Linked DNA regions of Homo sapiens: region 2 is linked to region 1. Evidence: fine-mapped expression QTL. A gene starts in region 1. The other region holds a variant in brackets. All regions are shown on one strand. Distances are between the middles of the regions.

Evidence for each region.
Region 2: its variant is fine-mapped to the expression of GCFC2 in nasal epithelium (TOPMed, PIP 0.93).

What each region holds. Positions count from the first base shown.
Region 1 is chr2:75,706,857-75,715,203 of GRCh38, forward strand. GCFC2 (GC-rich sequence DNA-binding factor 2) reads right to left here and starts at 4,059. Exons shown (of 17, transcript NM_003203.5): 1 at 3,735-4,059. The coding sequence starts at 3,999. LOC105374813 (a long non-coding RNA gene) reads left to right here and starts at 4,083. Exons shown (of 3, transcript XR_940260.2): 1 at 4,083-4,178. RefSeq lists a silencer at 3,591-3,890 and an enhancer at 4,869-5,440.
Region 2 is chr2:75,676,504-75,684,850 of GRCh38, forward strand. It overlaps GCFC2 (GC-rich sequence DNA-binding factor 2), which reads right to left. Exons shown (of 17, transcript NM_003203.5): 12 at 3,690-3,811. It overlaps LOC124906025 (a long non-coding RNA gene), which reads left to right. Exons shown (of 2, transcript XR_007087113.1): 1 at 1-3,349. Among named protein-coding and RNA genes, the nearest start is that of GCFC2, 30 kb to the right of the region's middle. The variant T/C (reference allele first, on the strand shown) is at 3,722.

The DNA of each region.
Region 1 (8,347 bases):
CTAGGCATCTAATAATATATTTCCAAAAGTATGCAATGAGAAAAGGGAAGGAGGCATTAGAGAAAAAAAAAGCGACAAAAAATGAAGTAATATTTAGAATAGTAATGATTGTGAATAAGTAGAAAAGAAAAATATTTAATGTATACTATGTACTAGGCACACTGAAACCTGTTTTACATGACTTATTTAATACCTGTAATTCTATAAAGTAAATGCAATTTCTGATGAGTTCACTAAGGATTGAGAGGATAAAGAACACCAACTCGGGCAGTGGAGAAGCAGGGCTGTCAACCTAATCCCAGGCAACTTCAGAACTTAGGCTCTCTTTATAGTATGCCATATTTCAACGGCTGGTGGCGAGAAATATTGTAACGAGCACTTTGGTCAATATTAAACCATGGGTCCATCTTTTCAATGCATGATTTGGGAAGGTAAATAGTCTGTTAAATTCAATTAATCTGTTAAACAAAGATAACACCAAGATAAAACCCACAGGGGTGTTGTGAAAATTGAATGAACAAAATAAAGGAATTCTTGACATTATTGACAAGAAAGGATTTCTTAATCCACAATAAATTTGCAATCTTTATGAGTAACCTTAAAACATAAGATTACATACTACTCATTAATTTTAATTTTCTACCTTAGTTAGAAGACCTACATACAGTTCAAAAAAGGCTGGAGTAAAATCAAAATTTAAAACACTAAAAAAAATATAGCTGCAGCTCACATCTTTCTTAGATATTGTCATTTATGACAACCCATACCTGTTTCCAAAGTGGATTAACACCAAAGCAGTGGGTCTTAAAGCATGGTTTATCAATCCCTGGAGGTCCTTGAGACTCTTTCAGAGAGTCTGTGAAATTAAAACTACTTTCATCACAATAATAACATGTTATTTGTTCTTTTTACCATGTTGATATTTATATAATGAAGTAAAGGCAGTGATGGGTAAAACTGCTAGGCTCTTGGCATGAATGAATCAATTTGTAGTAGCAGTTATGGTATTTTTCCTTACCTCACATGGCAGAAAAAAGCCAGTTGCTCTTCATGAACTAATTAAAAAATTGTTATTTTATTAAATTTTGACCCTTGAGTACACATGTTTAATATTCTTTGTGACAAAATCAAAGTATTCATAAGGCACTTTTGCTGCATCTTGAAATGCAATGGCTGCCTTAAGGAAAAGCATTTGTGTGACTGAGTTGCAAGCTGAACTAGACGTTGTTTTTAAGAAGCATCACCATTTTACTTGAAAGAATGACTAACAAACCGATTATTCAGACATGGCTATCTGACAAACATTTTCTCAAAACATGAGCCCGGTTGTGCCTATCAATAAAATGAGAGATTTCAAGTGAAAATTGAGATTTTGGAAAACTTATATTCTCTACTGTGAACCTAACAGCTTTCCAGTACTTACAGACTGATTAATCAGTGGTAATACTATGATTTTTTTGGTATTGTACAATAAAATGCTCCAACATTTGCAAGATCTGCAAACTCAGCTAATGAATACCTTCCAAATAATGCAAGATGTTACCAATCGTTCATGAGTAAAAGATCCAAAGTACAAAACAGAACAGAGTTTTAAGGTAAGAGCACCCCAAATTTAATCATATGGTTTAAGAATCCATTTGGCAACTTTTTTTTTTTTTTTTTTTTTTTTTTTTGAGATAAAGTCTCACTCTGTCACCCAGGCTAGAGTGTAGTGGCACAATCTCAGCTCACTGCAACCTCTGCCTCCCGGGTTCAAGTGATTCTCTGCCTCAGCCTCCTGAGTAGCTGGGATTACAGGCACCCACCACCATGCCTGGCTAATTTTTGTATTTTTAGTAGAGATGGGGTTTCACCATGTTGGCCAGGCTGGGCTCGAACTCCTGATCTCTTGATACACCTGCCTCGGCCTCCTAAAGTGCTGGGATTACAGGTGTGAGCCACTGTGCCCGGCCCGCAACTAACTTTTAAGAAGGGTTAGTTTATTACTTGTTGAGCTGTGTTATATTAAAGCACAACACCCTCAATGATCTAAAAATGCTATTAAGTACTCGTCTTAATCATGTATCTGTCAGAGGCTGTATTTTCTTCAAATACTTCAACCAAAACAAAATAGCACAAGAGATTAAAAGCAGAAACACCTATGACAATTCATCTGTCTTCTATTAATATTTTGCCAGACATTAAAGAGATCTGTAAATTGAAAACAATGCTACTCTTCCTTTTTTGGGGTAATACTTTTCACAAAAATCTTACTTATCCTTACATGTAATAGATTTTTTGTAAGTGAATTAATAAATTTTATTTTTAGTGTGATAAATATTGATAGGTATAACCTACTGAAACAAAAGCTCTTTGGAATCCTTAATCATTTCTAAGAGTCTAAAAGAGGTCCAATTCCCAAAGAGTTTGAGAACCACTATTCTAGAAGGCAAGAGAAAAGGAACTCCTGACTTCAACTTTCATCTACAAAGTTTAACCAGAAAACAAATATAAAAGGTCATGAAAACTTTAGACAAATAGAAGGTCACAAGAAAGACCAAGAAATCACGAAGATCATAAACCTGGAGGACATTATGTTACATGAAATAAGACAGGCACAGAGAGACAAACACCACATGATCTCACATATGTAATCTAAAAAAGTGGAAATCAGAAATCACAGAAGCAGAGAGTCGAGTAGTGGTTAGAAGGGACTGAGTGAGGTTGAGGGTAGTTGGGAAGATACTGGTCAAAGGGCACACATTTTAATTAGACAAGAGGAATTCTATTCTACAACACGGTGACTAAAATTAATAACAATGCATTGCATACTTGAAAATTAGTAAGAGTAGATAGTAAGTGTTCTCACCACAAAAAAAAGTAAGTACCTAAGGTAAAGCAAATGTTAATTAGCTCCATTTAGTCACTGTAGACACATTTCAAACATCATGTTGTACACTATAAGTATATACATTTTTTACTTCTCAATAAATTAATAAAAATCACTTTAATGACAATAAAAAATAATAGGAAGATTTTAGCTCTCAAGACTAACCAAAAACCGTATTCCTCATTAAGCTACAATTCCAACTCAGAGCAGCACATTTTATTTAAACAACTTTATGCTGCCTTACACCTGTATTTAAGAACTCAAAGGTACTTCAAAATGACGACACTATATCTAACACCATTACTGGTACCATCTACAGTGTCATGAATCTCTATCATGCTTCTTTGTGTTGTATATATTACTATTAGTTTTTGCAAATAACTGGTGAAAAAAGAAAATAAACAAAGGGGAATGTCCCAAAACCTAGATTCCTGTACTACTCTGGCTAAATGTTTTCAAGAAAGATAAGTTGGTCAAGTGTCTAAAAGGTACATATAACTTCTGCCCACTTAATAGTATTATAAATTATTGAACTTTGTTGTGACAGTTTAGGTTCTTCATAAACTTTGATAACTGTGTTAGTTATAACTGATGGAGTCAACTGATGGTGAAAACGAAGAGCCTCCCAACTGTACACGATTGTTTTATTTCCCCCAAGGAGTCCAAAAGGCAGATGCAGATAGCGGGCAAGTGCTCGAGCTATTTTCTCGCTCACTACCTTCTGGATAAGTCTTTCTGGATAAGACTCAGCATGGCTTGTGGTCGGCAGCAAGTTATAGAACCCCCAGAGAAGGATCCAGAGACCCCGCGGCCCCTTCCCGCCCTGTGCCGTCACCTCCCCGCTTCCCCGCGTCTCCCTGGACACCTGAGCCTTCGTCCGCGCGGGGAGCCGCTTTGGTGGCACGCCGGGAGCTCGCCCAGACCCGGCCCCGGCCACGAGGGCCCCGAACCCGGTGGGGCAGTCCCGCCACCTGCGCGCGGCCTCCTCCAGAGGGCGGCTCTTCCTCCGCAGAACCCGGGACCGGAAGTTCCCTCGGCGCCCCAGGCTCAGCAGGCGACTCCTCGGCGCCATCGCTGTCGCTGGAATCAGCCGCGCGCTGCCGAAAAGTCCTTTTCGGCCTGTGAGCCATGGCCGAGGCCCGAGCGCCCGGCGCCCTAGAACCCGCTGAACCGCAAGCCGCAGCTTCAGTGCCCGCCCCCTAGGGCGCGCTCCCGCCGCGCCTGGCCGCCGAGTGCGCGCGCCCGTCCCGCCTGCCTTCTGCTCACCGCTACTCTGTCTGCGCCTGCGTGCTTTGGCTCCCTGGATCTGGTAGGCCGAGTTCTGTTCTGGGGCCTGAGTTTGCAAAGCATTCCCTTTGCCAGGTTAGGTTGCGTGGACTGACACCTTAGAGATTTTCACGGCCTATCCGGTCTGAGTCCCACGGAGAGCAGAACTCACGTGCTGTCCTTGTGCAAACCCCATCCAGAAATCAAGCGTTATGCTTTCCGTCCTGGACTGGAGCCAGATCCGTTGTCTTTTACTTTCTGGAGAGAGTGCCCCCTCCAACCAAGATTTAAAACAAACGAAACCCCAGCAGTGTGAGGCTCGGGGTAGGAGGAGATGCCTTTGAGAACAAAACCATAAAGTCTGTACATAAACAATGCATACAGACTAGCAAAAATCAAATGACTTCCCCCAGGCAGCAGGGCTTCAAGAGAGCCTGGTTAAATGTTTTCACCCTTAAAGAAACTATCTAAAAACAAAAAGCTATTGTCTGACGCAAATTTGTTCTATATTCATCAAGCTCTGTCTACTACTGTATCTGTATGGTAGAAATACTATATAATGTTGAGCTACTGCACACCTGTTATCAACTCCATGTTTAGTGGCGTCATATTGAGAGGTGACAGCGGGCCAGCTGGAGTTCCGGGTGGGCATGGGCTTGGCGGGCCTGCACTCGGAGCAGCCGGCCGGCCCTGCCAGCCCCGGGCAGTGAGGGACTTGGCACCCGGGCCAGCGGCTACAGAGGGTGTACTGGGTCCCCTAGCAGTGCCGGCCCACCGGCGCTGTGCTCGATTTCTCGCCGGGCCTTAGCTGCCTTCCCGCGGTGCAGGGCTCGGGACCTGCAGCCCGCCATGCCTGAGCCTCCCATCCACTCCATGGGCTCCTGTGCTGCCCGAGCATCCCCGACGAGCACCACCCCCTGCTCCACGGCGCCCAGTCCCATCGACCACCCAAGGGCTGAGGAGTACGAGCGCACGGCGCCGGACTGGCAGGCAGCTCCACCTGCAGCCCCGGTGCGGGATCCACTAGGTGAAGCCAGTTGGGCTCCTGAGTCTGGTGGGGACATAGAGAGTCTTTATGTCTAGCTCAGGGATTGTAAATACACCAATCAGCACTCTGTATCTGGCTCAAGGTTTGTAAACACACCAATCAGCACCCTGTGTTTAGCTCAAGGTTTATGAGTGCACCAATCGACACTCTGTATCTAGCTGCTCTGGTGGGGCCTTGGAGAACCTTTATGTCTAGCTCAGGGATTGTAAAAACACCAATCGGCACTCTGTATCTAGCTCAAGGTTTGTAAACCCACCAATCAGCACCCTGTGTTTAGCTCAAGGTTTGTGAGTGCACCAATAGACATTCTATCTAGCTGCTCTGGTGAGGCCTTGGAGAACCTGTGTGTGGAAACTCTGTATCTAACTAATCTGATGGGGATGTGGAGAACTTTTGTATCTAGCTCAGGGATTGTAAACGCACCAATCACGGCCCTGTCAAAACAGGCCGCTGGGCTCTACCAATCAGCAGGATGTGGGTGGGGCCAGATAAGAGAATAAAAGCAGGCTGCCCCAGCCAGCAGTGGCAACCCGCTCCGGTCCCCTTCCACAGTGTGGAAGCTTTGTTCTTTCGCTCTTTGCAATAAATCTTGCTACTGCTGACTCTTTGGGTCCACGTGGCTTTTATGAGCTGTAACACTCACCGTGAAGATCTGCAGCTTCATTCCTGAGCCCAGCGAGACCACAAACCCACCAGAAGGAAGAAACTCCAAACACATCTGAACATCAGAAGGGGCAGACCCCAGACGCGCCACCTTAAGAGCTGTAACGCTCACCGCGAGGGTCCGCAGCTTCATTCTTGAAATCAGTGAGACCAAGAACCCACCAATTCCGGACACAATATTGGCACCTTGAAATCAGCCATAAAGGGACTACTTATACCATATAAATTGGAAGACCTTAGAAGTCCAGGTGTTTCTCCCAGATATCCAGTCATTAAACATTTACCATTGTATCACTGACTATATGTCACCAAAGGAATCGAGAAGAGGCAAAGTTTCTCTGATTGACCTAGCCCCGGAATTTTTTTTTCTTGGCTTTGTCTTTTTTTCTTGGCTTTTCTCAATAAACTGAAACTCCTTGATGTAAATTTGGGAAATTATATGATACAGTATTATCAGTTATTCACAAGTTATTAATGTCTTATTATAAAGAGAGGCTTCTCTTTTTAAATCCAGGTAAAATTAGAGAACTACTTGTTTTTTTGTGTGTTTCTTTTGGAAAATTGGCAAATGGTGTGAAAAAGATATTTCTGGAGAATAGAGATACTTGTGGCATCTGAAAGAACAGCTTCCTATCATGGACCAAGTGCTCCTTGTAGTTAGAATAAACTTTAAAGATTGGAGATGGAGAAGTGGGTTCCGTTCGGTCCAGTGCTTTTCAGATGCCATCTTTCCATGCAGAATTCCCAAGTTCTGCCATGGATACTGCTCTGTACTCCCTTAGCAGAGGAGGACATCTTTCCAAATTACACTATAAAGTAGTTAATGCTAAACCAAACAGGAGACTATAATTTTTAGTTTAGTTAATTTTATGGACAGAGTCTCGCTCTGCCACCCAGTGCGATGGTGCAAATACAGCTCACTTCAGCCTTGACCTACTGGGCTTAGTGATCCTCCCACCTTAGCCTCCTGAGGATCTGGGACTACACGCGCATACCCCAATGCCCAGCTAAGACTAGCATTTTGAAACAGTGAGGAGAATGAGGAAGATGATCGTGATTGTAATTGGAGAGAAATTCAGTGTTCTGTTATGCACTCTTAAGGAAACATATTAATATATCGTACAATTCAATCAGTGTTTATTATACACCTACTAGCACAGGCACCATGCTAAGCCCTAGACTAATGCTTATCAAATCTAATGTTCTTCAAAGCACATGGAAATAGTGTGGACATATAGATACTGATTGAGCTGCTATGTGTAGGAACCAAGAGTCTTCATTTCTAGCAAGCTCCCAGGTGAAGGCGAGGATACTTGTCTGAGGATCACTCTAAATAGCAAGGTCCTAGAGCAGATACTAAGTATTAATCACCCTTAAGAAGGCTGGGCGCAGTGGCTCACGCCAGTAATCCCAGCACTTTGGGAGGCCGAGGTGGGCAGATCACGAGGTCAGGAGTTCAAGACCAGCATGACCAACATGGTGAAACCCCATCTCTACTAAAAATACAAAAATTAGCCGGGCGTGGTGGTGCATGCCTGTAATCCCAGCTACTTGGGAGGCTGAAGCAGAAGAATCACTTGAACCCAGGAGGCGGAGGTTGCAGTGAGCCGAGACCGCACCACTGTACTCCAGCCTGGTGACAGAGTGAGACTCCATCTCCAAAAAAAAAAAAGAAGTCTTAAAAAATAGTCTAAATAACTTAATCATTGATGAACTTCATATCAGATTGTAACAGCATGTAAATGTTAGGTACCTCAAAATTTAGAAACCTAAATAGCCCCCCAAAAGGAAAACTAATAAGAATCTATTCAAAGTGAGTAAGGTTATTTAAGTGTAGAAGTTGTTCACCATAAGGGGATATCTGTCTGCACCTCCTCAAAAAGGGTTCTCTGCCAGCTTCCAAAGTCATTTTAGGTGTTTGTTGCAATTGGAAAGGGGGTCAGCAGGACAGAATTCACTCCCAGTGTTGCTTAAAAGGCAGCAGTTTATTTAAGGACAATCTAAGTGTGATGTTGGTGTTCTAGAAGGCTGTTCTTTCCCTTCAAAAGTCACTAACTCACAAACGATGTTAAACCAAAATGTGAAAACGCTAGGCAGAGTTTACTGTTCTCGGCTGAGTTCAGAGCCATCTGCTAATGTGGACTCATTGTTTACTTTCCCATTTTAAAAGACACTGCCTCCCCAGACAGAGCCCTTCTTTTACTCATTTTGATATCCTATACCTAGTTTAGTGTTTAGTGCACAACTGACATGAACACAATGAACTAAATGGTTGGATGAGGCAATTCTGAAACATCTGTGTTCACTCACGAAAATAAAACTGGAAAACAAGTCACTCTAACTTGTTAAATGCAAACATGTTAAGAGATAGGTGATATATGATGGAGATAGAAAAAACTCTGCTATTTAAAACAGAAATCAAACATTTGTTCTAAGGGAAAGAAGTGAGAAAAATTATTTTCTCTGGGTGTTGCCTTGGTGGGAGAGGATGAAATAAAGAT
Region 2 (8,347 bases), 30 kb before region 1:
TTAAGACACTCTCCACTTAATATGCTTACACCGAAAATTAAATGCAATATTCCCAGGAAGGTCTAATCTGTGGGTATTATCACCAAATATGCCATTCTTACTCAAAATAGCACACACATACTAGGAGAAACTCCCATGTACCTGTTTTCTGTTACTCAAGTGACACTGCTGACTCACGCTGGGTTTATTGATTATAATCTGTCTTACTTATGCTGCTTCAAAACTGTGTCTCTCTCATCTTTTACTTATATAGTTGAATTTTTAAACGCATGGGTGGGACATGCATTTATTTTTTCACAATTTCTTGAATCAGTCAATTTTCTACAATCTTTTGAAATCTTCTTGGATTCTAATTCTACCATCCACAAGTCTTACAGAATTCCTAGCTTTTTGTCACTGACACATTTCATTAGTATGTATTTTAACTCCTTATCCAGTTCAATAAAAATATTGAACAGGGCAAAGCTGAGAAGATATCTAATACTAACAGACTCCCCATAGGTAGCCAATGCCCTACTGGCCATTATTTTTTAGGTTTACTTAAGCTTATATTTCCCCATTTAATCCCTAAGAACAATCATAATAACAATTTGCTTCAATAAACAATGTTAAGTATCATTTGTATTTGGGAATCCTATCAATGACAGATTATAGTAATTACTGCTTTTTAAATTTAAGTATTCATAATCTTCCTCTATAATAATTTACTTTAGATTTTTAGTCAGAATCAAAACTATTATTACCAGGCATTAGCTTACAGCATTTCCTTCTAACTTTGAAAACAGAAACTATGTTGTCTGACTCAATTTTCATTCTTGAACCTCATTCTCTTTCATCACTGAAGAAATGGAGTGATCCCACTGGTGAACTGTCTTAGCAACATGGGGCATTATATAGTGTAAGTGATTCTCTACCAAGTGCCATTTTGCCATCCCTAGGGAATACCTGACAATGTGTAGACATTTTTGGTTGTGAAGACCGGGGAGTGCTACTGCCACCTAGTGGGCACAAGCCAGGGATGCTGCTAAGCATACTATAGTGCACAGGACAAACCCTCACAACAAAAAATTATCTGTTCCAAATGCCAATGTAGTGCTGAGACTGAAAACCCTGATGTAATCTATTCTCCTGCTTATGAAAACAACCCATTTTCTACATTCACAGCAGAGCGGTTTCAGAATAAAAACATCCATTATAAAAACTGCTTGAGTTTGCCTGTAATCCCAGCACTTTGGGAGGCCGAGGTGGGCGGATCACAAGGTCAGGAGATCAATACCATCCTGGCTAATACAGTGAAACCCCGTCTCTACTAAAAGCACACAAAATTAGCCAGGCATGGTGGCAGGTGCCTGTAGTCCCAGCTACTCGGGAGGCTGAGGCAGGAGAATTGCTTGAACCTGGGAGGCGGAGGTTGCAGTGAGCCAAGATCACACCACTGCACTCCAGCCTGGGTGACAGAGCAAGACTCCGCCTCAAAAAAAAAAAAAAGACTTCATGAGTGAATCCATAATACTGCTGAAGGGCTTCAGTGATCACAAAGAGCCAGGTCTACCACTTAGTATTCAAGTATTTCAAAAATGACTTAACCCTTCTGGGCCCCAGCTTCATCTGTAAAAATGCAATTAAAATAAATACATTTCACAGGGTTATGAGGATCAAATGAGACAATGTGAAAGTATTTAACAAATGGTAAAGCATAATGATTTACATTTAGGTTATAACTAAACAATACTATATGGAAAGCAAATGCAGGATTATATATCTGCTTCTTTGTAGCTTTTAACTACTAATCTTGGTTCTATGCTGCATAACAGCACAGAATAAATCTATACCTTCTTTGAATACAAACAGCATCTCTCTGTACATCTTTCAAATTAAATATCTCTAATTCCTGCAACAGTTTCCATCTATTTTACTTGAGTTTTTATCCTATTGGAGGTAAGCAGAAAATGCCTCTCTCTCTGTTGCCACATGTTGAAATCCTATTCTTTCCCTCAAGCCACAGTTCAAATGCCACCCCTAAGATAAATTATTTCCTTATCCCCACTGCTGAAGGTAACCTCTCTCTCCTGTCTCTCTCCTGAAGACACAGTACTTTATCTATGCTGCTCAAGGGGAGGCAACATGGTCAGTGAGGCAAACTTGGGCTTTAGAGGCAGACTATCCAAGTTCAAATCCTAGTGCTCATTCATAGTAGCACTGTGACAACTAGTTTTAAAGATTCATTTTCTTCATCTATAAAATGAGGCTGTCATCCTTTTAAGAGACAGGGTTTTGCTGTTGCCCAGGCTGCAGTGTGGTGGCACAATCAAGGCTCAATGCAGCTTCAACTCCTGGGCTCAAGGGGGAGCCCAGCTAATTTTTATTTTTTTGGTAGAGATGGATCTTGCTATGATGCCCAGGCTGGTCTTGAACTCTTGGCCTGAAGAGATCCTCCTGCCTCAGCCTCCCAAAGCACTCAGATATACAGGCGTGATCTGCCATACCTGGCGATCACCCATTTTTTAAATAGGGCTGCTGGGATTAAGATGACAGGTACAAGACCTTACAGAGTGCCTAGTACACAATTGGAATTAAATAAGTGTTTGTTATCTTCCCTACTTCTCCTTTTCACTTCCAGTTTTAAGTTACAGTTTATGTGCATCTTATTTTCTCTGAGATTACATGCTTCTTGAAGGCAGAATTAGGCTGGTATCCCTTTTCTCCCTTTCATTTCTTACAGCTATCCTCCTTTGTAATCACAGTTCCAAGGGCTAAAACTTAATGGTGCTCATAATATGAATATGATATGCCTCCTTGCTTTTCAACCACCTCTGTCATTCTACTCCGGGCATTCTCCAGTCTGTCAATTTCTCCTTAATTTCCTAAAGCTCAACCTAAAATTGGTTTACTCATAAAACTGCATGAATCTACAATCTCATCAACAAACAATAAAAAAAAATGCTACAATGAAAGAGTGAGAAGATTCTCAGCAACATCACTCTAAAAAGTTCCCCAATATGTCTTATGTTCACTGAATTCAATTCTAGATCATTGTAAGATTAAGATCTGTTTTACTGAACTTTGAATCCTTAAAGAGACTACTATTATTTGGTAGACTACAAATAACTAGTTAATACAATAAGTGTCAGTCTAATTTTGAAACCATTGTTCAAGCAAAGCCACAATGCCACTGGATTTTTGCCAAAAGAACAAAGGTAATGAGTATTGTTGTCTTCCTTTAGAAGAAATGAATTTGCACTAATGAATTTATACCGGTTCATCTCTGCAGGGCCAGTGTATATTCATAATCCTGAAAGATGGCTGCCTGGGCCATGAGAACACAAATCAGATCACTGAACAGAGAAAAGTAAGCTAATAGGAATGAAAGTCATAATCTGGGTCCTTACATGTATGTCTATAATTTAAAATGATTACCACTCCTATCACAGTGTTGAGAAGTATCAAGGTATATTCTTTCATCTTATTATTATAAAGATAAAAAATAGCCAAGTCCAGTTTAAAAAATTTTTTTTTCATCTCAGTGCAGTCTGAGAAAAAGTCTAGTTTCTATAAATCAAAAGTAAATATGTTTTCCCCCAAACAGTTTTCTGATAATCACTTCTGCATCTTTTATAAACCAAGATCTGTAAGAAAATTATAATGATTTAGAGATAGATCATGGAGTTCGCAACTCTAGAAATTATTACCTGTCTGCTTTTACTAACTTCATTTTCACAAG[T/C]GGAATGTTCTTCAAGAATCACTCTGCAATGTGTTATTAAACTTGTTGTCTGTGAGGTTGACAAAGGATCCCAAAGGAATTCTACAAAGTCTGAAACAAATATTTCAGTGGTACACAATGTATTTACTAGATTGTTTTGCTTTTCATATACAAATAATCAAGACCTTTAACAAACACTACTTCCCTCCTTATTCAGTTTAAGTTCCATGGCCAATTATTACCATTACATATTTGCATACATCTTCAATTTCCTTGTTCTTCTTGGGCTTTGTTAAACTCCTCTGGCTAAACTACAGCTCTTTATAGTTAAGTTCACCTTGTCACTGAGTCTCTGCCTGCAACCATGCAGATAAAAAGTGGCTGGAAAAACAAACACATTAACTTGATCACTATACAACTTGAGTGAGCCTCTCTCTCTCTCTGTCTCTCAGGTCCATTCACTCTCCCTCTCACCTAGATGATTACTTCATACCTTCTCCCCTCTCCGTTATCTCTCTCTCAGTTGATGGACTTTTTCCTTCTAGATGATTATTTCCTACTTTATTTTTTCTACTCCCTTGCATTCTCTTTCAGCTAATTACTTCCTAATTTGCTAAGAAAATAGAAGCAATCAGAAAAGCAGCACTATGAAGCTCCTACCACAGCATCTACACACCTACCTACATCTGTGCCGATATGCTCTAACTTGTCTCCTATTCCTATGGATGAGGCACCCACACTCCCACCACTTCAGGCAAACTGTTTATTTTGTGGATGAGATCCCAAGCCTTTTGGCTTAGTCTAAGATCCTGTTCCCAGAACACTGTCCTTCCACTTTGGTATTGACATCACTTGTACTAGATTTTTTCCATCACCCTACAAACAACTATTTATCTTGTATTAAAAATAATCCCCCTCAGTGTAAGGAGGCTGCCAAGATGGCCGAATAGGAACAGCTCCAGTCTACAGCTCCCAGCGAGATGGACGTAGAAGGCCGGTGATTTCTGCATTTCCAACTGAGGTACCCAGTTCATCTCATTGGGCCTGGTTGGACAGTGGGTGCAGCCCACAGAGGGTGAGCTGAAGCAAGGTTGGGTGTTGCCTCACCTGGGAAGCACAAGGGGTTGGGGAATTCTCTCCCTTATCTAAGGGATGCCACGAGAAACCGTGCCAGGAGGAACAGTGCACTCCAGCCCAGATACTGTGTTTTTCCCACGGTCTTCGCAACCGGCAGACCAGGAGATTCCCTCCAGTGCCTACCCCACCAGGGCTGTGGGTTTCATGCACAAAACTGGGTGGCTGTTTGGGCAGACATCAAACTAGCTGCAGGCTTTTTTTTTAATTTTTATTTTTTCATACCCCAGTGGCACCTGGAACGCCAGAGAAACAGAACCATTCACCACCCTGGAAAAGGGGCTGAAGACAGGGAGCCAAGTAGTCTGGCTTGGTGGGTCCCACCCCCACGGAGCCCAGCAAGCTAAGATCCACTGACTTGAAATTCTCACTGCCAGCACAGCAGTCTGAGCCCAACCTGAGATGCTTCAGCTTGGTAGGCGGAGGGGTGTCCGCCACTGCTGAGGCTTCAGTAGCCGGTTTATGCCTCACAGTGTAAACAAAGCCACCGGGAAGTTCGACCTGGGCAGAGCCCACCGAAGCTCAGCAAGGCCACTGCGGCCAGACTGCCTCTCTAGACTCCTCTTCTCTGGGCAGAGCATCTCTGAAAAAAGCCAGCAGCCCCAGTCAGGGACTTAGAGATAAAACCCCCATCTTCCATGGACAGAGCACCTGGGGAAAGGGGTGGCTGTGGGCGCAGCTTCAGCAGACTTAAACGTCCTTGCCTGACAGTTCTGAAGACAGCAGTGGTTCTCTCAGCACAGTGTTCGAGCTCTGCTAAGGGACACACTGCCTCCTCAAGTGGGTCCCTGACCCCTGTGTATCCTGTCTGGGAGACACCTCCCAGTAGGGGCCGACAGACACCTCACAGAGGAGAGCTCTGCCTGGCATCTGGCGGATGACCCTCTGAGACGAAGCTTCCAGAGGAAGGAACAAGCAGCAATCTTTGCTGTTCTGCAGCCTCCGCTGGTGATACCCAGGCAAACAGGGTCTGGAGTGGACCTCCAGCAAACTCCAGCAGACCTACAGCTGAGGGGCCTGACTGTTAAAAGCAAAACTAACAAACAGAAAAGAATAGTATCAGCATCAACAAAAAGGATGTACCCTAAGAGACCCCATCTGAAGGTCACCAACATCAAAGACCAAAGGTAGATAAATCCACAAAGATGGGGAGAAACCAGTGCAAAAAGGCTGAAAATTCCAAAAACCAGAATGCCCGTTCTTCAAAGAATCACAACTCATCACCAGCAAGGGAACAAAACCGGATGGAGAATGAGTTTGACGAAGTGACAGAAGTAGGCTTCAGAAGGTGGGTAATAACAAACTCCTCTGAGCTAAAGGAGCATGTTCTAACCCAATGGAAGGAAGCTAAGAACCTTGAAAAAAGGTTAGAGGTATTGCTAACTAAAATAACCAGTTTAGAGAAGAATACAAATGACCTGATGAAGCTGAAAAACACTGCATGAGAATGTCGTGAAGCATACACAGGTATCAATAGCTGAATCGATCAAGTGGAAGAAAGGATATCAGAGACTGAAGATCACCTCAATGAAATAAAGCGAGAAGACAAGTTTAGAGAAAAAAGTGAAAAGAAACAAACAAAGCCTCCAAGAAATATGGGACTATGTGAAAAGACCAAATCTATGTTTGATTGGTGTACCTGAAAGTGATGGGGAGAATGGAACCAAGTTGGAAAACACTCTTCAGGACATTATCCGGAAGAACTTCCCCAACACAGCAAGGCAGGCCAACATTCAAATTCAGGAAATACAGAGAACACCACAAAGATACTCCTCGAGAAGAGCAACCCCAAGACACATAATTGTCAGATTCACCAAGGTTGAAATGAAGGAAAAAAAGTTAAGGGCAGCCAGAAAGAAAGGTTGGGTTACCCACAAATGGAAGCCCATCAGACTAACAGCGGATCTCTCTGCAGAAACCCTACAAGCTACAAGAGACTGGGGGCCAATATTCAACATTCTTAAAGAAATGAATTTTCAATCCAGAATTTCATATCCAGCCAAACTAAGCTTCATAAGCAAAGGAAAAATAAAATCCTTTACAGACAAGCAAATGCTGAGAGATTTTGTCACCACCAGGCCTGCCTTACAAGAGCTCCTGAAGGAAGCGCTAAACATGGAAAGGTACAACTGGTACCAGACGCTGCAAAAACATACCGAATTGTAAAGACCATCAACGCTATGAAGAAACTGCGTCAACTAATGAGCAAAATGACCAGCTAGCATCATAATGACAGGATCAAATTCACACATAACAATATTAACTTTAAAAGTAAATGGGCTAAAAGCCCCAATTAAAAGACACAGACTGGCAAATTGAATAAAGTGTCAAGACCCATCAATGTGCTGTATTCAGGAGACCCATCTCATGTAAAGAGACACACACTGGCTCAAAATAAAGGGATGGAGGAATATTTACCAAGTAAATGGAAAGCAAAAAAAAAAAAAAAAAAAAAGAAAAAAGAAAAAAAAGCATGAGTTGCAGTCCTAGTCTCTGATAAAACAGACTTTAAGCCAGCAAAGATCAAAAGAGACAAAGAAGGGTATTACATAATGGTGAAGGGATCAGTGCAACAGTAAGAGCTAACCATCCTAAATAAATACGCACCCAATACAGCAGCACTCAGATCAGATTCATAAAGCAAGTTCTTAGAGACCTACAAAGAGACTTAGACTCCCACACAATAATAGTGGGAGCCTTTAACATCCCACTGTCGATAACAGACAGATCAATGAAACAGAAAATTAACAAAGATATCCAGGAATTGAACTCAGCTCTGGACCAAGCAGACCTAATAGACATCTATAGAACTCTCCACCCCAAATCGACAGAATATACATTTTTCTTAGCACCACATCACACTTATTCTAAAACTGACCACATAATTGGAAGTAAAACACTCCTCAGCAAATGCAAAAGAATGGAAATCATAACAAACAGTCTCTCAGACCACAGTACAATCAAATTAGAACTCAAGATTAAGAAACTCACTCAAAACCGCACAACTATATGGAAACTTAACAGCCTGCTCCTGAATGACTACTGGGTAAATAAAGAAATGGAGGCAGAAGTAAAGATGTTCTTTGAAACCATGAGAACAAACACACAACGTACCAGAATCCCTGGGACACATTTAAAGCAGTGTGTAGAGGGAAATTTATAGCACTAAATGCCCACAACAGAAAGCAGGAAAGATCTAAAATCGACATCCTAACATCACAATTAAAAGAGAGGATGTGGAGAAATAGAACACTTTTACACTGTTGGTGGGACTGTAAACTAGTTCAACCATTGTGGAAGACAGTGTGGCGACTGCTCAAGGATCTAGAACTAGAAATACCATTTAACCCAGCCATGCTATTACTGAGTATATACCCAAAGGATTATAAATTCATGCTGCTATAAAGACACATGCACATGTATGTTTATTGTGGCACTATTCACAATAGCAAAGACTTGGAACCAACCCAAATGCCCATCAATGATAGACTGGATTAAGAAAATGTGGCACAT